Homo sapiens: one gene and its partners. The protein of the gene in region 6 interacts with the protein of the main gene of each other region in a pairwise test. Each region holds a gene or a part of one and is shown on either strand. Other genes may lie near its edges.

The links.
Region 1: the proteins of CCR2 (region 6) and TECPR2 interact in a two-hybrid assay, tested with the Homo sapiens proteins (one large-scale study listed by BioGRID and IntAct).
Region 2: the proteins of CCR2 (region 6) and PLLP interact in a two-hybrid assay, tested with the Homo sapiens proteins (one large-scale study listed by BioGRID and IntAct).
Region 3: the proteins of CCR2 (region 6) and TMEM63A interact in a two-hybrid assay, tested with the Homo sapiens proteins (one large-scale study listed by BioGRID and IntAct).
Region 4: the proteins of CCR2 (region 6) and SLC41A3 interact in a two-hybrid assay, tested with the Homo sapiens proteins (one large-scale study listed by BioGRID and IntAct).
Region 5: the proteins of CCR2 (region 6) and SLC2A1 interact in a two-hybrid assay, tested with the Homo sapiens proteins (one large-scale study listed by BioGRID and IntAct).
Region 7: the proteins of CCR2 (region 6) and EMC10 interact in a two-hybrid assay, tested with the Homo sapiens proteins (one large-scale study listed by BioGRID and IntAct).

Annotation. Positions count from the first base shown.
Region 1 is NC_000014.9:102,442,941-102,446,440, forward strand, and holds part of TECPR2 (tectonin beta-propeller repeat-containing protein 2), read left to right. Parts: intron 1-706; coding exon 707-887; intron 888-2,865; coding exon 2,866-3,007; intron 3,008-3,500. UniProt on the Homo sapiens protein: Probably plays a role as positive regulator of autophagy.
Region 2 is NC_000016.10:57,274,673-57,278,172, forward strand, and holds part of PLLP (plasmolipin), read right to left. Parts: intron 1-3,500. UniProt on the Homo sapiens protein: Main component of the myelin sheath that plays an important role in myelin membrane biogenesis and myelination. Plays an essential function in apical endocytosis. Regulates epithelial development through the regulation of apical endocytosis.
Region 3 is NC_000001.11:225,872,381-225,875,880, reverse strand, and holds part of TMEM63A (mechanosensitive cation channel TMEM63A), read left to right. Parts: intron 1-1,513; coding exon 1,514-1,593; intron 1,594-3,500. UniProt on the Homo sapiens protein: Mechanosensitive cation channel with low conductance and high activation threshold. In contrast to TMEM63B, does not show phospholipid scramblase activity. Acts as a regulator of lysosomal morphology by mediating lysosomal mechanosensitivity.
Region 4 is NC_000003.12:126,070,625-126,074,124, forward strand, and holds part of SLC41A3 (solute carrier family 41 member 3), read right to left. Parts: intron 1-3,500. UniProt on the Homo sapiens protein: Na(+)/Mg(2+) ion exchanger that acts as a predominant Mg(2+) efflux system at the mitochondrial inner membrane.
Region 5 is NC_000001.11:42,945,369-42,948,868, reverse strand, and holds part of SLC2A1 (solute carrier family 2, facilitated glucose transporter member 1), read left to right. Parts: intron 1-3,500. UniProt on the Homo sapiens protein: Facilitative glucose transporter, which is responsible for constitutive or basal glucose uptake. Has a very broad substrate specificity; can transport a wide range of aldoses including both pentoses and hexoses.
Region 6 is NC_000003.12:46,357,111-46,359,275, reverse strand, and holds part of CCR2 (C-C chemokine receptor type 2), read right to left. Parts: intron 1,800-2,165; 5' UTR 1,749-1,799; coding exon 666-1,748; 3' UTR 1-665. UniProt on the Homo sapiens protein: Key functional receptor for CCL2 but can also bind CCL7, and CCL12. Also transduces signaling mediated by CCL13.
Region 7 is NC_000019.10:50,486,507-50,488,938, forward strand, and holds part of EMC10 (ER membrane protein complex subunit 10 isoform 2 precursor), read left to right. Parts: 3' UTR 1-2,432. UniProt on the Homo sapiens protein: Part of the endoplasmic reticulum membrane protein complex (EMC) that enables the energy-independent insertion into endoplasmic reticulum membranes of newly synthesized membrane proteins.

The DNA of each region.
Region 1 (3,500 bases), on a different chromosome or scaffold from region 6:
GGAGCCAGGGACCCTGAGCTTTGGCCTGCCACTGCCTTGCAGTTTGACAGACCTCAGATTTCATCTGGGAAATTCGGGGTTTCATTTTATTAGTGGAACCTCGCACCCAGTCAGAGCAGAGAGGAGCCGCCGTGCTGGAGCTCTCTGCAGGAACGACTGCAGGCCTCAGGTCCCTGCCAACTCCAGCAGCGCTGCAGCCCTCTGCCTGGAAGAGCTGCTCTGCCCTGCAGCCTTTGGGCCTCCATCTGGCCACTCTCCTGCTCTTGGCTTTTGTGTTCTTCTCTTAGAACTTCTTAAGCTACATTGGGACACCAGATAATTCTGAATTGTTCAGTTTTCAAAGAGTGTCTAAAACTGTTTTCAGATAGATGTTACATTTAGGCAGAATTTAACCACTTTATGTTGATTAAACTTGACAACAAAAAAGCGGCCGGACAGGGCAGCTCCTGCCTGTAATCCCAGCACTTTGGGAGGCTGAGGTGGGAGGATCTCTTGAGCCCAGGAGTTTGAGATCAGCCTGGGCAACGTAGAAAGGCCCCGTCTATATTTTTAATTAATTAATTAATTAAAGTTTTTTTTTAAAGCACTCATCATAAAAGAATATAGCAAAATACCAAAAAAGGAAAAATAAGCCAATAACCAAGTCAAAATGAGGTGTGGAGTTCTGACTGTGTGTCTTTGGGGCTTCTTCCCATCTTCCTGGCAGGTCTGAGCGTGGATCGCCCTTGTGCCAGAGCCGTAAAGGTGGACTGTCCCTACCCGCTGTCCCAGATCACAGCCCGGAACAATGTGGTGTGGGCGCTGACAGAGCAGAGGGCCCTCCTGTACCGGGAGGGCGTGAGCAGCTTCTGTCCGGAAGGCGAGCAGTGGAAGTGTGACATTGTCAGGTACTGGCGGGCCAGAGACTCCTTTCACATCGTGCTTGTCCTACCCTTCGTTCTTGTCCACTTGACACCACAAGGCACCATGAGGCCGTTCCTGGGAGGCAGCACCTGCAGCCTCCATGGCTATAGGCTAAGCTTGAATCTCTGCCTAATTCTGACCGGCAAACTGGACGTTGAGTCAGAGCTCGCTTTTTAAAAATGCTGCCGCCCTCTGCGCAGCCCTGAGCATCACAGCGTCATGAGTCTGTCATGACGGTCTCTATTCAGAATTGCCCACCGTCAGGTAGTTCTGGTTTAGTGTCTGTGACGGCTTAGGTCCAAATATTTTTCTTTATTTTCATGCTAATCGAAGTTGATCTCTGAACTGTAGCTTTTTTTTTTTTTTTTGATACAGGTTCTCACTCTGTCACCCAGGCTGGGGTGCAGTGCCACGATCACGGCTCACTGCAGCCTTGACCTCCGGGCTCAGGTGATCCTCCTGCCTCAGCCTCCTGAGTAGCTGGGACTACAGATGCATGCCACCATGCCCAGCTAATTTTTGTATTTTTTGTAGAGATGAGTTTTGGGTTTTCATCATGTTGCCCAGACTCATCTCGAACTCTTGGGCTCAAGCAATTCTCCTGCCTTGGCCTCCCAAAGTGCTGGGATTACAGACATGAGCCACTATGCCTGGCCCGATCTCTGAACTGTAATTTATTAAGCTATTTTTTTTTTTACCATTCAAGATGTTAGTTATAGAATTGCCATCAGATCATTTTACTAGTATGGAAGTATTAATAGTCCTTTGAAAAACTAGATTAGGATATTCTTGGTTTGAATTTAGCAAGCCAATAAACTTTCAGTGAATACCTATTAAGAGCCAGAATGGTCCAGGTGTGGTGGCTCACGCCTGTAATCCCAACACTTTGGAAGGCCAAGGCAGGCGGATCACGAGGTCAAGAGTTCGAGACCAGACTGACCAACATAGTGAAATCCCGTCTCTATTAAAAATACAAAAATTAACCGGGCATCTCAGGAGGCTGAGGCAGGAGAATCACTTGAACCTGGGAGGCGGAAGTTGCAGAGAGCTGAGATCGCACCATTGCACTCCAGCCTGGGTGACAGAGCAAGACTCCATCTCAAAAAACAGACAGACAAAAAAAAGCAACAACAACAAAAAGCCAGAATGGTGCTAGGGGCTGGGTGCGCCAAGAGGGCTGAGACTGGCCCTGCTCTCATCAGTTCCAAGTCTCATGGGGGCCCCGTGCATGGATGGACACCCATTAGCACAGATGGCCCTAAACAGGAGTGTGGAGCATGCAGCACTGAGGGAACCATGGACTCCATGCAGAGATCAGGAAGGCAGCATGCAGAGTGGACCAACAGCTAAGCCTTGAAGCTGACGAGGACTTCCCCATATGGAAGGAGGGGGAGGGCGTCTCCAGCAAAGAGGGCAGTGTCTGCCTAGGTCCAGCTGCACAGAATAGCCTGGCACATCGGGGGAGTTTACAGTCATTCCCTTGGTGAGGGAGGGAGTAGAGAGATGGAGGCGCTCAGGGGCCTTGGATTGGCGGGGGAAGGAGTAGAGAGATGGAGGCACTCAGGGGCCTTGGATTGGCGGGGGAAGGAGTAGAGAGATGGAGGCACTCAGGGGCCTTGGATTGGTAGGGGAAGGAGTAGAGAGATGGAGGCGCTCAGGGGCCTTGGATTCCTTTTGTGCCTACTCGCTTTTTTCTTAGGTTATTTTCTCTCTTAAGAGTGTTCCCAGCCATTCTGGGTCATCAGTGTGTCTTTCAAAAGCTGCCACCCACTTGAACCATATCTCTTGCACAGTAATTTAACTCAGACCCAAACTTCCTTCCCTGGCACCTGCTGATCCGCTCCAGGGCCACGTCTCTTCTCCCAGCCACGCCTGCCGGGAGACCCTGGATGTCCGCAGTCCAGACACACTGGGCACTCTGCCTATGGGTGCTGACCCCCCTGTTCTCCTCCTTATTTTCAGCGAAAGGCAAGCTTTAGAACCCGTCTGCATAACGCTCGGGGATCAGCAGACTCTCTGGGCCCTGGACATCCATGGGAACCTGTGGTTCAGAACTGGCATTATTTCCAAGAAGCCCCAAGGAGATGACGACCATTGGTGGCAAGTAGGTGTTCAGCTCTGCGCCACGTGCCGAGGTCTCCCGACCTTTTCTGCTTCCCCTTTTCTTACTTCTCTCTTTTCCTTAACGATACTAGATTAAATTTAAAATACTCACTTTTTTATTATTTGTTTGTTTGTTTTGAAACAAGATCTCCTTCCGTCATCCAGGCGGAAGGGCAGTGGTGCAGTCACGGCTCACTGCAGTCTTGACTTCCTGGGCTCAGGTGATTCTCCCACCTCAGCCTCCCAGGTAGCTGGGACTACAGGCGTGTGCCACCATGCCTGGCTAGTTTTTTGTATTTGTTTGTAGAGACAGGGTTTTGGCATGTTGTGCAGGCTGGTCTCAAACTCCTGAGCTCAAGAGATCCACCCAGACTGGGCAGAGTGGCTCACACCTGTAATCCCAGCAATTTGAGAGGCCAAGGCAGGCAGATCACTCGAGTCCAGGAGTTCAAAGCCAGCCTGGGCAACATGGTGAAACCCTGTCTCTACCAAAA
Region 2 (3,500 bases), on a different chromosome or scaffold from region 6:
GAGCTCCTGACCTCAGGCGATCTGCCTGCCTCGGCCTCCCAAAATGCTGGGATTACAGGTGTGAGCCACTGTGCCTGGATCAAGAGTAGTTTATTGTTTATTTTTTTGAGATGGAGTCTTGCTCTGTCACCCAGGCTGGAGTGCAGTGATGCGATCTTGTCTCACTGCAAGCTCCGCCTCCCGGGTTCACACCATTCTCCTGCCTCAGCCTCCCGAGTAGCTGGGACTACAGGCGCCCGCCACCATGCCCGGCTAATTTTTTGTATTTTTAGTAGAGACGGGGTTTCACCGTGTTAGCCAGGATGGTCTCAATCTCCTGACCTCGTGATCCGCCCGCCTCGGCCTCCCAAAGTGCTGGGTTTCAGGCGTGAGCCACCACGCCCGGCCAAGAGTGGTTTCTTATGTGTGTCTCCAGGGACTTCACACACACACACACACACACACACACACACACACATGCATTTCAGATAAGTGTGTCTTGTATCTGTGTACTTCTTCCACACAAATGATAGCATGCTACAATTTTGCACCTTGCTTTTTTCACTTAAATAGGTAGCCTGGAGATTGTCCATCCTTATACACAGAGCTGTTGCATTGTCTTCTTTGAGGGGTGGGGGGATATCTTTTTACTCACTGCATCATGCACCATTGTACAGATGTATCATAATTTATCTAAACTAGTCCCCATTGATGAACTTGTATATATCACATATATAAGCTAATTTTAAAAAGGAAACTTAAATCACTAGGAAGTGGGAAACCTGTATTATCTGTCACAATAGAAGCTAACAAGGTAATTAAATACAACAAATATGTAACAATGTTAATACATTCCAGACAGATACAACTGGAGTGAAAAAGACTGAACTATGATTCAATTTCCAGAACCCAGAAAGAAAAAAGGAAGAGGAATGAAATAAAGAAATTCAGCAAAAAAAAAAAAAACACTACAACAAAATTTTGCAAGGCAAAAAAAAAAAAAAAAAAAACACCATGAGAGGGGGAAAAAAACCCAGCAAAACAAACAAATTAGGAAAGAAATATTTGCAAATAATCCAGAACTCCTAGCAGTTATTAAGGCAAAGACCAACCACACTCAGTAGAATGAGCAAAGAATACAAACAGACAAGGAAATACAAACGGCTCTTAAACATCTTTTAGATCCTGGCGCCGCGCCTTGCATTTATAATTTCAGCACTTTGGGAGGCCGAGGCAGGAGTACTGCTTGAGCCCAGGAGTTCGAGACCAGCCTGGGCAATATAGTGAGACCATGTCTCTACCAAAAATTAGCTGGGCATGGTGAGGAGCACCTGTAGTCCCAGCTACTCGGCAGGCTGAGGTGGTAGGATGGCTTGAGCCCTGGAGGCGGAGGTTGCAGTGATTCCTGATCGTGCCACTCCACTCCAGCCTGGGTGACAGAGTGAGATCCTGTCTCAAAAACCAACAAACAACCCAAACACATTTTTTAAAAGGTCAACCTCACTGATAAGAGACTGAAAATAGGCTAGGTTTGGTGGCTCATGCCTGTAATCCCAGCACTTTGGAAGGCTGAGGCAGGCAGATCATCTGAGGTCAGGAGTTCGAGGCCAGTCTGGCCGACATGGTGAAACCCTGTCTCTACTAAAAATATAAAAATTAGCTGGGCATCATGGCTCATGCCTATAATCCCAGCACTTTGGAAGGCTGAAGCAGGCAGATCACCTGAGGTCAGGAGTTCAAGACCAGCTTGGCCAACATGGCCAAACCCCGTCTCTACTAAAAATACAAAAATTAGCCGGGCTTGGTGGTGGGCGCCTGTAATCCCAGCTACTCGGGAGTCTAAGGCCAGAGAATTGCTTGAACCCAGGAGGCAGAGGTTGCAGTGAGTCAAGATCATGCCACTACACTCCAGGCTGGGTGACAGAGTGAGACTCTGTCTCAAAAAAAAAAAAAAAAGAGAGAGAGAGAAATGAAAATAACACTACATTGACCTATCATTTTGGTCTATTCGATTGGGGCACATCCAGAAGTGTGTTAAATCACCATGTTGGGAGGCTGTGGGAACAGGAACCTTCCAGGAGGCATGCTGTTGCAGGCAGGAAGGGTGTGACCTCTCCGGAAGGCATTTGGCAATCTACATCACAATCCCAAATGCATGTATCCTCCCACCCAGTAGTCCCACTCCTGGAAACATATCGTACAGATGCACTTGGTGGCATTTCTTGCAGCAGGGTGCGCAACAGCAAAGGAATAGAAAACCCGAAGTGTCTGTCAACAAAGGGACTGACCACACAGTCACACCACAGCTGCATGGTGGAATACTATAGAAGCCATAAAGAAAGAAGCAATTGCACTCCACACACTGAGACAAAAGGACCCCCAAGATTCATTTTTTAAGTGTAAAAGAAAAAGTGCAGAAGGATGTGGCTAGACTATATATCTTGGGGAGACTATATAAACTGGGAGAGAGAGGAATCTAGAGCCACATTTGCATAGGTCTCCTTAAAGAAAGTCTTAAAATGGGATATAGAAAACTGAGAGTGGGCATGAAGGAGTCAACTTTAACCAAAAGGGAACAGAGATTTTTCACTGTACTCCTTCCCTGTCTATTTTATTCTTGAGCATTGTAAATACATTACCTATTAAAGAAATTAGGGGCCGGGTGCGGTGGCTCACGCCTGTAATCCCAGCACTCTGGGAGGCCGAGGCGGGCGGATCACCTGAGGTCAGGAGTTTGAGACCAGCCTGATCAACATGGTGAAACCCTGTCTCCACTAAAAATACAAAAATTAGTCAGGCCATGGTGGTGCGTGCCTGTAATCCCAGCTACTTAAGAGGCTGAGGCAGGAGAATCACTTGAACTTGGGAGGCAGAGGTTGCAGTGAGCTGAGGTCACGTCACTGCACTCCAGCCTGGGTGACAGAGCAAGACTCTGCCTCAAACAAACAAAATAAAAATAAAGAAAAAGAAATTAGGTAATAAAGGTATGAAAAAGATGGACACAGCTTGCTGTGCACTGATACAGAATATCCCTAGGTGTATTGCCCTGGGGAAAAGCATGGCTTGGCACATGCCCAGACAGCACCTATCTGTGGTTAAGTGAGGATGTGGGTTTTATGTAGAAATATGCATCCACTCACCCTGGAATGAGACACAAGGCATGTGGTTGCCTGGGGTGAGGGCAGCTGTGGGGCGTGGTCAGTCAGGGATGAGAGAGATTACATTTTCTTGATTACCCTTTCTACTATTTGAGTGCTTTGTATTATGTCTCTGTAATTTTTTTTTCAAAGAATAAAACAATTCCATCAGTAGAGAAACAGCTAAATGAGCAGAGGCTGCCGGGACACTACGGGTTACTCCACAACAGTTTACAAGGAAGGAAGACAAGTCTCAAAACATGAAGAGTGGCCAGGCACGGTGGCTCATGCCTGTAATCCCAGCACTTTGGGAGGCAGAGACAGGCAGATCACCTGAGGTCAAGAGTTCAAGACCAGCCTGGCCAACATGGTGAAGCCCCGTCT
Region 3 (3,500 bases), on a different chromosome or scaffold from region 6:
TGTTGCCTAGGCTGGTCTCAAACTCCTGAGCTCAAGCGATTCACCAGCCTTGGCCTCCCAAAGTGCTGGGATTACAGGAGTGAGCCATGGTGCCCGGCCAGGGGTGGATTTTTATTGCAGTAAGTTTTGGGGGTGGGGGAGGGGGGACACATAAGAGCCAGAGGGCCCTGGAGAGCATGGGTTTGTGGGAAGTGTCTGCACTGCACAGGCCAGGGCGGCAGCCGCTGTGGACAGAGAGGGCAGGCACCTGCTGAGCAGGTTTCGTGGTTTTCCTACAACATGACTCACCTGCCTTTGAAAATATGTCACCAACTTCCTGATTCACCTGAAGAAAATTCCACGAGAACTCAGTGCCTCTGGGGTTCAGGTCTTCTGGATTTCCTTTAGGAAAACAAAGCCTACCTTCAAAACCCCCGTTTCTGATCAGAGCAGGCAGGGATGTGCTTACTAAGATGTATTTCTCTACCTCCCTGAACCTCAAAGAGAGGGACCCTGTCTAGGGAGGGAAGAGAGGCAGGAACATGGCATGGAGCCTGCCAAGGTGGACTGTGGGGAGTGAGGACAGTCTAGAGTGTACAGATGTCTAGAGCTAAGCGGCTTAGTCCAGCCCTGAGGTTGCCATTGGACACAAGCTTGCTGAGGTGTCCCAGCTTACGGAGGCCAAGCCAGCCCGAGCACAGGTTCTCGTGGTGCCTTGCTGCCTGCATGCATGCTCTCTGCTGGGGGATTGCAGGGCCTGCGGGGCCTGCCTTCAGGGGAATCAAACTCAGAGGAAAAAACTGACCGTTTCTGGCTCAGCCTGAGGAGGCTCTGCTACCTTGGTTCTGTAATTTAAAATGAAATTTTCTGGCCAGCATGGTGGCTCACGCCTGTAATCCCAGCACTTTGGGAGGCTGAGGCAGGTGGATCACCTGAGGTCAGGAGTTCGAGACCAGCCTGACCAATATGGTGAAACCCTGTCTCTACTAAAATACAAAAATTAGCTGGGTGTGGTGGCGGGCACCTGTAGTCCCAGCTACTCTGGAGGCTGAGGCACAAGAATTGCTTGAACCCGGGAGGGGAAGTTGCAGTGAGCCGAAAGAAAAAAATTTTCTGTAAAGTGAAGAAGGATGCTGGTTCCTGGGGCTGCTCTGGGGCCAGACCTTACCCTCCTGCTCGGGGCCACTGAAGGCAGAGCAGGGCCCGAGACTGGGCCTTGTGGTGTTACCGCTGCCTTGAGAGCAAGAGACAGGGCTGACGTGCAGAACTAGGCAGGCTCCAGGCAAGCTTGGCGTCAGCGCTGGCAGCCTTGGTGGCGTGGGCACAGGTGACAGGAGCCTGGTGAAGGGGGTGAGCAAAGCATCCGGGCTACTGAGCTGCATGGCCTTGGGCACTTCAGTGCCCTCTCTGGGCCTGGGTGTTTTCCTTCTAGCCCTGCTGAGTGCGGGCAGGTGGGCTTTACCCCTGAGACCGCTGTGTCTTCTAATGAGAAGCCATCCAATATGCTTTTACTTGGTTTCTTTTCTGTTTTTAGTTCTTAATCTTGGTGTTTTCTATTATAAGAAGAAGATTCTGGGACTATGGCCGCATTGCCCTGGTGTCAGAAGCAGACAGGTAAAGACATATCGCCTAGGCTGTGAGCATGCGTGTGCGTACGTGTGAGTGTGTATATGTGCGTGAGTGTGTATATGTGCGTGTGTGCATATATGTGTGTATAGTGTGTGTGTGTGTGTCCCTGGAATGGGCTAGGGGCTTATGAAGCCCTCCATGTGGGCAGGACCCACACATGACACTGCTATGAGATTGTGTTCATTAAGTGTATCTACCTGGCCTGTACCAATAGCTGTTCTCTTTGCTCTTCACCACAGACCCATGAGGTCAGCCTCGCTACCCTCATTGTGCTCACAAAACAAAAAACAAAAACAAAAACCCAGGCTCAGATGCTCAGCTCCCTCAGGGCTTCTGTTGGGCCAAGGCTATGAACCTTGTTGGCTTCAGACTGGTTGCTTTAGATACTGAGGGCTTTCGTCATCCTCTGAAGAGGATGCCCATTTTCTTTCTCACCTTGAGTATTTTTAAGTGATCATCTTTGAAATTAATTAGCTTGGGGCCAGGGCTGAGTGAGGATCAAGGGCAGCAGAGCCATCAGGGAACTGCCCCACCCTCCTGCCAGGTCAGCGCCGGGTTTGGATGAGTCTGTTACAAAGCACAGGCTCCCTCGGCCAGGCTTCAGGTCCTTCCAGTTCTGCGTGGGGCTCCAGGATTCTCTGTTCATGTCGCCTGAAGGGTGACAGTGAATTCTGGATCTGCACAACCTGACGTTCCAGCTCCAGCTGGCTGTTTGCACCCAGGATCTTGTGTCAGATGTGGTAATAGGAAGTGAGTGATGAAAACTCAGGGACTGGCCCCAGCTGCCACCCAGAGCCCCAGAGGGGCTCTGGCAGACCCTCCACTCTCGGGCGCCTCCTGACATGTGGCCTGTGCGGCAGGGTCCTTTGAACTGGGAAGAGGAGGTGTACCTGAAAATGCACCATCTTTCCCCGTGATCCCTGCTCTGGGATTTGCTAAAGCCTGAGGTGATGATGACCTTGGACTGTTGGAGAGAAACTTTTGGGACATCTGATGCCTTTACGGCACATTCAGCTGGAAGTGGGGCCATGTACTCTGGTTGAAAAGACCACCTGGGGATCAGAGGGCCCTGCTGTATCCCTGGCTGTGCGACCTTGGTCAAGGCCCCAAACTTAATAGGGTCGGTCTCCTTCTGTCCTCTCTTCCCCATGAGGTCACGGTGAAGGTCAAAAGGGACAGTGTCTCTGCAAAGGCTTTTAAAGTTAAGTTTCGTCATGTGTTTTGTCTTTAGTAGGGGGGCAGTAGAACCAGGAATAGGAGACTAGAGAAAAGGAGTCACAGCCAGGCATGTTGGCTCACACCTATAATCCCAGCACTTTGGGAGGCCGAGGCGGGGGTGGATCATGAGGTCAGGAGTTCAAGACCAGCCTGGCCAAGATGATGAAACCCCATCTCTATTAAAAATACAAAAATTAGCCAGGCATGGTGGCGGGTGCCTGTAAGCCCAGCTACTCGGGAGACTGAGGCAGAGAATTGCTTGAACCCGGGTGGCAGAGCTTGCAGTGAGCCAAGATCACCCCACTGCACTTCCAGCTTGGGTGACAGAGCCAGACTCTGTCTCAAAAAAAAAAAAAAAAAAAAAAGAAGAAAAGCAGTCACATATACGTATTGCAAACACCTCAGATTTATAGCGCATGGGGTGTTTTTATGGGGGTACTCGCAAGAAAGGATCTGATTAAAATGCCACAATATAAAGTGCCATCATTTGTCCACTCTAAAACATATGTTTTGACATTTTCTCATCTCTGAAATTGGAAGGCATCTTGTTATTGATGGGTGGTCATAGTTTATTTGGCAGCATTTTTTCTTTAGTGTTTCATAAAATAATTGTGCAAATTACAACCAGTGGTATCTTAGATTTGATAAAATGTAGTATTTATTCCAAGTTTTAT
Region 4 (3,500 bases), about 80 Mb from region 6:
AAGAATTCTTAACTAGCAAAATTATCTTTTCAAAGTAAAGGAGAAATTAAGAGATTTTCAGATAAACAGACACAGAGCATTCGTCCCCAGCACACCTGCCCTAAAGGAAACACGAAAGGGAGTCTTTAAGGCCGAATTAGGATCCTAGACACTAGCTAGAATCCACACAGAGGAAGGAAGAGCATCGGCAAAGGTAACCACCTAGACAGATTTTTTTTTTTAAGTATAAACACATTTTTGTTAGTAACTCTTTTTACTCTTATCCAATTTAAAGACAACCACATAAATCAAGTTGGAATTAAGTTGTTATTGATCCAAACACGATTATTATAAACCAAGGTGCTGATTGTAATCCTCAGGGCAACTGCTAAGAAAAAAAAATATAAAAGAAATAACAAGTGAATAAAAGTGATACACTAGGAAAGATCTACTTAGTACAAAACAATGCAGTAATGGGGAAACAGGGAAAAAAGACATTAGACAGACAGAAAACAAATAGCAAAATGGCAGACATAAATCCCATCTTATCAATTATTACATTAAGTATAAATGGATAGGTTGGAAGTAAAAGGATTTAAATAAATATACCATGCAAACAATAACCAAAAGATAACTGGAGTGGCTTTAATACTATTAATAATATCAGGCAAAACAGACATAAAAACAAGAATTCTTACTACAGACAAAGAAGGATATTTGATAATGATAAAAGGGTCAATCTATCAAGAAGCTATAACAATTACAAACGTACATATGCCTAACAACAAAGCCCCCAAATACATAAAAGTGGCAGAACTGAAGGAAGAAAAAGACAATTCAATAATAATAGTTGGACATACCTCACTTCCAACAATTGATAATACAATTTGACAGAATTTCAACAAAAGAAAGAGGACTTCAACAACATTATAAACCAATTAGATCAAACACATCTATACAAAACACTCCGCGCAACAATAGCAGAATACTCAATCTTATCAAGTGCACATGGAACATTTTGCAGGCTTGATCTATCTTAGGAAAAATAACTTCAATAATTTAAGACTGAAATCATACAAAATATGTTTTCCAACCACAACAAAATAAAATTAGAAATCAATAACAGAAGGACATTTAGGAAATTTATAAATATGCGGAAATTAAACAACTTTTTTTTTTTTTTTTGAGATAGGGTCTTATTCTGGCACCCAGGCTGGAGTGCAATGGCATGATCACAGCTCACTGCAGCTTAGACCTCTGGGGCTCATGTAATCCTCCCTTCTCAGCCCCCCAAGTAGCTGGGACTACAGGTGTGTGCCACCATGCCCAGCTAAATTATTTTTTAAAGTTTTGTAGAGATGGGATATCACTGTGTTGCTCAGGCTGGTCTCAAACTCCTGAGCTCAAGTGATCTGCTCACCTCGGCCTCCCAAAGTGCTAGGATTACAGGCATGAGCCACCATGCCCCAGCCCATACTCTTAAATAAGTAATGGGTCAAAGACAAAAATCACAAGATAAATTAGAAATTTCTTTGAGATGAATGAAAATGAAAATACAACATGCCAAAAAATCATGGCATGTGTTAATGTAGTGCTTAGAGGGAAGTTTATAGCTATAACTATCAATTTCTTTAAAAAGAAATGAACAAATTAATAAATCAATTTTCCACCTTAAGATAAAGAGGAGCAAACTAAACCCAAAAAAGTAGAAGGCAGGAATTAATATAGATTAGACTGGTAATAAATGAAAGAGAATTGTAAAAAAAAATAAAAAAAAAAAAAGGCCAGCAAAACCAAAAGTTGGGTCCTTGAAGAGATCGACAAAACTGACAATCCTTTATGTAGACTGATGAAGAAAAAAAGACAGAAGACTCAAATAGTTAAATTAGGAATGAAAGAGGAAACATTACAACCAAAACTAAACATAACTATAAGAGAATATATGATTAACTGTAAGCCAACAAATTGGAAAAGCCACCAGTCAGAATGGCTATTATTAAAAAGTCAAAAAATAACAGATGCTGGTGAGGTTGTAGACAAAAGGGAATGCTTATACACTGCTTGTGGGAATGTAAATTAGTTCAGCCATTGTGGAAAGCAGTGGAGGTGATTTCTCAAAGAACTTAAAACAGAAGTACCATTCAACCCAGCAATCCCATTATTGGGTGTATACCCAAAGAAATATACATCATTCTACCATAAAGACACACGCACAGGTATGTTCATCGCAGCACTATTCACAATAGCAAAGACACAAAATCAGCCTAATGCCTGTCAACAGAAGACTGAATAAAGAATATGTAGTACATATGCCCATGGAACACTATGCAGCCATGAAAAAACAAGATCATGTCATCTGCAGCAACATGGATGGAACTGGAGGCCATAATCCTAAACAACCTAATGCAGAAACAGAAACCCAATACCATGTTTCACTTATAAGTGAGAGCCAAACATTGGGTACACATGCATATAAAGAAGGGAACAACAGACACCAGGGCCTACTTGAGAACAGAGGGTGAGAGGAGAAAGAGGATCAAAAAAACTACCTATCTGGCCAGATGCAGTGGCTCATGCCTGTAATCCCAGCACTTTGGGAGGCCGAGGCAAGCAGATTGCTTGAGCTCAGGAGTTGAAGACCAGCTTAGGCAAGATGGTGAAACCCTCTACAAAAAATACAAAAATTAGCCAGTCATGGTGGAGTGTACCTGTAGTCCCAGCTACTCAGGAGGCTGAGGCAGGTGGCGCTTGAGCGTGGGAGGCGGAGGTTGCAGTGAGCCGAGATTGCACCACTGCACTCCAGCCTGGGTGGCAGAACAAGACCCTGTCTCAGAAAAAAAACAAAAACAAACAAACAAAATCCAAAAAACTACTTATTAGGTACTATGTTTATTACCTGGGTGACAAAATCATCTGTACACCAAACCCCCATGATACCTAATTTATAACAAACCTGCACATGTACCCCTGAACCTAAACGTTAAAAAATAAATAAAGCTAAAAAAATTAGAAAACCTAGATGAAATGTACAAATTCCTAGAAACACAAACTAGTAATACTGACTCGTGAAGAAATAAAAAATATTAATAGATCTACAGATAAAGAGATTGAATTAGTAATCAAAAAACTTCCCACAAAGAAAAGCTTAACACCAGATGGCTTCACTAGAGAAGTCTACCAAGCATTTAAAAAAAAATAACACAAATCCTTCATAAACTCTCAACAACAAATTGGAGAAGGGAACACTTCCCAACCGCTTGTATGAGACCAGTGTAAAGACAACCCAAGAAAGCTACAGACCAATGTGTGTTATGAATACAGACACAAAATCCTCAGCAGAATACTAATAAACTCAAGCCACTAGTACATACAAAGACTTTTACAATATAACCAAGTGGGATTTATTTCAGGAATGCAAAGTTGGTTCAATATATGAAAATCAATGTAATACACCAAATTAATAGAATAATGGGGAGAAAACATAGCTCAACAGACACAGAAAAAGCATTTGGCAACAACTA
Region 5 (3,500 bases), on a different chromosome or scaffold from region 6:
ATGGTCTCGATCTCCTGACCTCGTGATCTGCCCGCCTTGCCTCCCAAAGTGCTGGGATTACAGGGGTGAGCCACCGTGCCCGGCTCCAACTTTTCTATTTTTAGTAGAGACAGGGTTTTGCTGTGTTGGCCAAGCTGGTCTGGAACTCCTGGCCTTAACCAATCCGCCCGCCTCGGCCTACCAGAGTGCTGGGATTATAGGTGTAAGCCACCGCGCCCAGCCTTGAGGTTCTTTCTTTTAATGCCCAGAAGTTCATTTAAATGAGTAAGAAACACAACAAAACAAATTAAAAGGGAGCTGTCATGGATTCAGGTAAACCCCTCCCCCACTCCTTTGAGCCGTGGACTAAGCAGTTGGAAAGCCCTGCGTCCCCTGCTTCCCTGCACCTGGGGAACCCATGTGGGATGCTGTGGGAAGAGGACAAGATGGAGCAACATCTGGAGTCTGCCAGCCCTGGGACCCTCCTCTTGCCAGGAATACCCTGCCTCTGAGTAGCAGTAGCCACGTGCCCTTCCTGTGCCAATATAGATTGAGAACCTGCTGCAGGCCAACCCTGGGGCTGGAGCGCAATGCTGACACACTGACATGGGTCAAAAGGCCACAGTGTTTGGCAAGTTATACAATGTGGCCAGGGCCATCTGGCATCCGAGCGTTGGGGGAGAGGTCCTGAATCTTAACACCTCATCCATGGCTTCCTGGGAGAGGGAGGGCTCTTGTGGGTCGTGAGACCCCCAGCGGTGGGATAGGGAGGGTGAGGGGTGGGGACATGAGAAATGCTTCTCTGTGCTGGACCCTGAGCCCAGTTGCTGGCCAAGCTGGGAGGCCATGACTCTCCTAGGAGAGTCAGGATTTGAACTCAGTCTGCCTGACTTCAGAGGTCCTTCCTTGACAGCCCTGTGGGCTTGGAGTGGAGGGTTTTGTGGGGTGCTGTATTTACCTCTCAGAGCTCTGATGTTCCAGCACTCGTCAGGGGTTTGATAAATGGCTAAGGATGAACACTGGTCTGGCACAACAGATACTCACAGAGCCAGCTTTGCCCAAAAGCCAAATTGAAAAGTGGCAGGTTTCTTTGTTTGGCAATTAGCATGTGCTGTTCCCTACTCTCGTCACTCTGGCTGCAGACACGGTATGACCCAGGTTCCATTCCTTTTTTTTATCTCACTCTGTTGCCGAGGCTGGAGTGAAGTGGCATGATCTTGGCTCACTGCAACTTCTGCCTCCCAGGCTCAGGTGATACAGATGTGTGCCACCATATCCAGCTGTTTTTTTTTTTTTTTTTTTTTTTTTGTGTGTGTGTGTGTGTAATTTTAGTAGAGACCTGGTTTCACCATATTGCCCAGGCAGGTCTTGAACTCCTGAGCTCAAATGATCCGCCCACCTTGGCCTCCCAAAGTTCTGGGATCACCGCGTCCTGCCCCTGGTTCTATTCTTAAGGAGTTCCCAAACTGAGTGGCAGATGGGTAATAAGCTAGAGACTGCAGAGGACATAGCAAGAGCAAAGGCCTGGAAGAGAATGGAATGTTCTAGAAAGTAGTCTCATCCCCAGGGAGTGCTGATGGGCTGCTGGGGATCCCAGACTCTGGGCTGTACATTGCTCCCCACCAGTAAAAAAGGCTCCCACAAGAAAATCACAAGCTCTATGGGGCTAGTACCCTTCTCTAAGTCATCACCAACTGTTCATCAGCTTGACACCAGAATAAATAAATACACGTTGAGTGAATGGACTTCATTGCCATGTTCCAGTTCTAGCCACTGGCTGGTGGGGGCAGATGGTGCTGAGGCTGCCCGATCGAGGGTAGCTTGCTATTCTTCACCGATCCAGCAAACACTTGTGGAGGGAATTCTGCCAGGCTTCATGATGGATACTGATAGAAAACGTAACAGCAACCCTTTAAGGAAGGAACTTTCATCCCCGTTTTCTAGGTGAGGAAACCAAGGCCCAGAGCAGGGCTGCCTTGTATCCAACTCCAAGGTGAAAGGAGGCAGCTTGCTGCATTTAAACGTGGGTCTGCTTCCAAGCCCAGCAATGATCAAGCCGGCTATAGTGGGCGCAGCAGAGTGGCAGCATGAATCTGAGATTGGTCGCAGTGTCTTGTGCCTACTGAGGAGCAGGGGCCATGTCCCTCCCCCTACACCTAGCACTGAGCCACACTGAGCACGCTGTTTCTTAATCTGACTGGTCCCCATTTCTTCTCCTTGCACATACTGTTCTGTCCACCTGGAATGTAGCCTTGCCACTGCTTTCCCACTTGGCAGACTCTCTGTGTGTCCTTCACAGCCCAGCTCCAATGTCACCTCCTGGGAACTCATCTTTTTTTGTACCCAGGCAAAACTGGAAATCTTTCCCTCCAGGGTTCTCACAGTGCCTCATACCAGCCCCCTGTTGAAGCCCAGACCACACTAGCCTCTCATCTTCATCTGCCTCCCCACTGCCCCCACCCCACTGTACTGGAAACTCCTTCCTTGGTGTCAGGACTGGGTCCAGTTTCATCCGGGGCCCCAGCTCTACTTAGCATGAGACCTAGAGCATGGGTCACTGGTATTTTAGTCAGTCCTAGTGCAGCAGCTGCCTGGGTGGATGTGGATATGACCCAGGGAGTGGGTAGGCAGGTTTTCTAAAGTCGAGTTTGACCTCGACCTGCTGATGACAAGGTCCAGCGGAGGGGTATGTCCTTGGCCTCCAGCAGCCCCCATTGACAGAGGCTACAGTCGAGCAGCTGCTCAGTGGGGCCCCAGGGATGACTTCAGAGGCTCCAGACCCCTGGAACATCAGATGCAGACCTCAGTAAAACAGGGCCTGTGATAATAGCACTTACCTCACATAGCCAGTGTCATTCACTCATGCTCTACCAACATAATTTTTGCCAGATCCATGGATCATTTGTATTATTTTCCACTTAATGTTTTTATTTAAATTGCTTTGTTCTAAGTAATATGAAATCACAGGGCTTGTAAAAATTATTTTGAATAGGTGATTCCATTCACACCATTCAGAATTCAAAAAAGTGCCAAAGGCTATAAAATGAAATCTCCCTTTCACCCTGTCCCCAGTCACCCAGGCCCCCCCGGGGTTAGAATGTTACCTTTCTTGTACATTCTTGTTTTTTGTTTTTTGTTTTTTTTTTTTTTTGAGACAGAGTCTGCTCTGTCGCCCAGGCTGGAGTGCAGTGGCGCCATCTCGGCTCACTTCATCTCCCAGATAAAGTGATTCTTGTCCCTCAGCCTCCCAAGTAGTTGGGACTACAGGCACGCACCACCATGCCCAGCTAATTTTTGTATTTTTAGTAGAGACAGGGTTTTGCCATGTTGGCCAGGCTGGTCTCGAACTCCTGGCCTCAAGCTGAGATTATAGATGTGAGCCACCGTGCCTAGCCTCTTGTGCATTCTTTTAAATAGATGTGTATATTCTCCCCCTACCCCCAGCCAATTTTTTTTTTTAACCCAAAAGGTAGCATACAATATACACACTGCTCTGTTTTTGGTTTCGCTTTTGTTTTTTG
Region 6 (2,165 bases):
TGCATGGGTGCCATAGATAAACTGTAATAAAGCAAAAATATGTCATGCACTTATGCAAAAGAGAATCATCGGACTCCACCAAAACTCCCAGGTTATTGCAGTTCCCAAACTCTCCCTGACCTGGTGAACCCTTCAAGGTTAAATACACGTGGCAGATGGGGCTAAGGACCAGTATCATCTCCTGGCTGAATGCGTGAGCCCTTTGCTCACCTTTGTCTTTGTCCAGGCTCAGCCATGCTCATGTCTCCCTCCTTCTCCTCTCAGCCCTGACCCCACTATCCCTCACTCCCATTCATCTGTGCCTGTCACATTCTCTTCTTCACCTCCAGCTGGCCCTTGATTTCAAGACATTGACAGAATCAGAGATTGAGTGAAGAAATTATGAAGACTAGAAAAAGAGGATTAGCACAAGGTAATGAGGCATTTTTCAGGAGCTGAGATGAGCTTTCTGGAGAGTCAAAGTCTCTACCCACAGTTTTTCTGGATTATTCCCTGAGCACATGTTGGATATGCATTGGGTGACATAGTCTGTATTAGTACACACAGCCCTGAGGTTCCTGGGCACCTGCTTTACAGGTTTCTATTGTTCAACAAACCCTTGAAGTTTGTTGTTATATACAGATTGTTATCTCCCTTTATAAACAACAATCAAACTGCTCCTCGTTTTATAAACCAGCCGAGACTTCCTGCTCCCCAGTGGAAGGCGTGTTTGTTGAAGTCACTCCATCCACTGTCTCCCTGTAGAAAACTGGACATTGTTTGCAGAAGCGCTTGGTGATGTGCTTTCGGAAGAACACCGAGAGATACCTTCTGAACTTCTCCCCAACGAAGGCATAGATGATGGGATTGATGCAGCAGTGAGTCATCCCAAGAGTCTCTGTCACCTGCGTGGCTTGGTCCAGTTGACTGGTGCTTTCACAGTTACTCAGGCCGAAGAATTCCTGGAAGGTGTTCAGGAGAATGACAATATTATAGGGAGTCCAGAAGAGAAAGTAAACAATCATGATGGTGAAGATGACTCTCACTGCCCTATGCCTCTTCTTCTCGTTTCGACACCGAAGCAGGGTTTTCAGGATTCCCGAGTAGCAGATGACCATGATGAGCAGCGGCAGGACCAGCCCCAAAATGTTCCTCATTATTGTGTGGAAATTATTCCATCCTCGTGGAAAATAAGGGCCACAGACATAAACAGAATCTTCTTTCTGGCATTTAGTAAAGATGATTCCTGGGACAGAAGCAAACACAGCCACCAACCAGGTGATCACACTTGTCACCACCCCAAAGGTGACCGTCCTGGCTTTTAAAGCAAACACAGCATGGACAATAGCCAGGTATCTATCGATTGTCAGGAGGATGATGAAGAAGATTCCGCCAAAATAACCGATGTGATACAGCCCTGTGAATAATTTGCACATTGCATTCCCAAAGACCCACTCATTTGCAGCAGAGTGAGCCCACAATGGGAGAGTAATAAGAAAAAGCAGATCAGAGATGGCCAGGTTGAGCAGGTAAATGTCAGTCAAGCACTTCAGCTTTTTGCAGTTTATTAAGATGAGGACGACCAGCATGTTGCCCACAAAACCAAAGATGAACACCAGCGAGTAGAGCGGAGGCAGGAGTTGGGCCCCAATTTGCTTCACGTCAAATTTATGACAGGGAGCACCGTAATCATAATCAAAAAAGGTGGTGACTTCTTCACCGCTCTCGTTGGTATTTCTGATAAACCGAGAACGAGATGTGGACAGCATGTTGTGGATGTACTGGGGAAATGCGTCCTTGTTCAATCCACTTTCTCTGTTCTGTAAACAAAGAACAAAATGATGACCACACAACACAAACACCGCAATCCATGATCTTCCAAATAGTCTGGCACCACATAAGCAACTTCCCAGTCTTTGCCCTCTCCCTTGCAGCCATCTCCCTGAAAGCATGTGTGCCAGTTCCTGATTTGCCTTTCATTCCTAGTGGCAGACATCAATGATTTACCCAACAGCCATTTTCCGACACCCTTTATCTTCCCCAGCAAACCAGATTCTCATTTTCAGGCTAAAAGCGCTGGGCGTTTGTTTTCTCTGGCTCCTTTGCAGGTGGTGCATAGGTCTGTGACTCATTGCTGGACCATAATATGAAAAGGGAGTCTGCTGGGGGCTTCTGAGAAAGCTCTT
Region 7 (2,432 bases), on a different chromosome or scaffold from region 6:
TCAGAGAGACTCCCTGGTAAGGATTAGGGGCTAATTACTGGTGCCTCTTCAGCTGTCAGTCCATCCTCCTTTATTTGTACCCACCTTCCAGTCAGCAAGGCACAACAATGTTGTTACAAAGGAAACAAACTCAATTTGGCCCATTTCCTGGAAATGCAATCTCCCAAACAGGTTTGTGTGAACCAAATTCCATTTTCCTTTGTTTCCCATGTGCAGTCCCAGTTGCATTTCCATGGGAGCCAATCCACCCACCCATAGAATGACTTGAAAATGTGTGAAGTTCAGAAGTTTCATACCAAGAAGTTTGCTGAGCATGATGTTTGTATATTGATTAGGAGTAAAAATGTTCATTTTTACAAAATATTACAACTTCTCCCTCTCCCCTCCTTCCACCCAGTATCCCCTGTTCCTCCCCCAGGCATTCTGGTCACTGTTCCTTTTTGTTGAGATCATTCTCGGTGTCTCATATAGCTGGGTTGCAGCTCCGTTCTTTGCCAGGAGGTGGTAATAGAGGATTCCACGCACTCAGAATGCCTCAGGCCGGCGCCTGTGGCTTCTCTCAATGGAGGGAAGTGTCCTGCAGGGGGCGCTGTTGGTCCTTCAGGCAAGGTCGGGTTCCCTCGAAGTCTCTGTCTTAGCAGTTGCTGGTCTTCAGAAACATTGGGCACCAATTTTCTCATTTCTGAAATGGAATTCAGGTGAGGTCCCCTCAGTGCTGAGGTGCTTCATGTTGTCAGAGGAAGAGTTGGGAAGGGAGCGGAATGGAGCAGAAAGGCGTCATCCGCTGCTCACTGAGCTCAGATAGGAGGCCAGGGATCGGCAGATTCAGGAGCCCACTCCTGGCCAACCCCAGGGGCCCCACCCAGTCCTGTCCCTGCTCCTTACGTGCTGTGTATCTTTAGGCAAGTTGCTTCCTGTCTCTGAGCGTCGTCTTTGTTTCCGCCTTCCTGGGCCTACGGCAGGCCTGATTCCTCCAGGCAGTGTCCAGAGTTCCGGACAGATGGAAAAGGAAGAGAGAATGGGTGTCACAAAGGTCTGTCCACTCCTGGGCCTCAGGCTTGGGGGCCCTGCTCAGGGCTAGCCTGTTTGGGCCTCGGTATGGACTCCTGCCTCCTGGTCAGGACCTGGAAACCTGGGAGCAGGCAAGGCAGGAACAGGAGAGGGAGGCAAAGGCCCACCAGGCAGGGATGCAGGGGCCACCTGGAGACGGAGGAGACGGGGCTCCCGGGAGGGAGGCCAGTGGGAGTGAGAGCTTGAAGGAGAGAGAGCCAGGAGAGGAGACAGGTCCAGAGAGGAGGGAAAGGAAAGGACAGGGCAGAGACAGAGAAACCAGAGAGAGGGAAGGAAGAGAGACCCAAGGGGGAGAGACAGGGAAGGAAGAGGGAGGTGAGAAGAGGAAGAGGCAGATTCAGAGGAGAGAGGAGAGAAAAGAGGTGGAAATCAAACAGGAGAAAGAGGGAGGAGAGGAGGGAGGAGAGAGTGTAGGAAAAAAGCAGGAGGAAAGAGCCGGGCACGGTGGCTCACGCCTGTAATCCCAGCACTTTGGGAGGCCAAGGCAGGCAGATCACGAGGTGAGGAGATCGAGACCGTCCTGGCTAACACGGTGAAACCCTGTCTCTACTAAAAATACAAAAAAAAAATTAGCAGGGCATGGTGGCAGGCGCCTGTAGTCCCAGCTACTCGGGAGGCTGAGGCAGGAGAATGGCGTGAACCCTGGAGGCGGAGCTTGCAGTGAGCCGAGATTGCGCCACTGCACTCCAGCCTGGGCGACAGAGCGAGACTCCGTCTCAAAAAAAAAAAAAAAAAAAAAAAGAAAAGATGGCCAGAGCAGGAGGGGAGAGAGGAAGAGGGAGAAAGAAGGAAACAGTGTAGGGGGTCAGAAGTGGAAAGAGAAGAAAAAACAGAAGAGGAAAGAAAGACGAGGGGGTGAAAAAAGGGACAGGAAGGAAGAGAGGGAGAGGGTGGGTGCCATGGCTGGTGAGCTCGGAGAAGAGGGAAGCAGAGAAACGGGTGAAGGAGGGAGCGTCCTAGGGAGAAGTGGGTGGGGGAGAGGGTGTTGGGGGAGAAGAGGGTGGGGGAGAGGGGGCCCCGGGAGAGGGAGGGATGGAGGAGCGGGGAGCTCCAGCCAGAGAAGAGGAAAGAGAAAGGAGAGAGCTAGGAACTGGGAAGGAAAAGAGCTAGGAGGAGACCATGAGACAGAAAGAGAAGAGGGTGAAGAGAGAGGATAGTGGCTGGGAGGAGAGAGGAGGAGGGAGGAGCACAGAGGGAGAGGAGAGGAAACAGCCAGAGAATCTGCTAGAAGGGAGAGAGGAGAGAGAAGAGCCGGACAGGGAGAGCAGAAGTGAGAAAAAGGAGGGTGGCCACAGAGAGGACAGCGAGAAAAAGAGAACAGGAAGAGGGGAAAAGAGAAGAAATGGGAGAGGGAAGAAGGG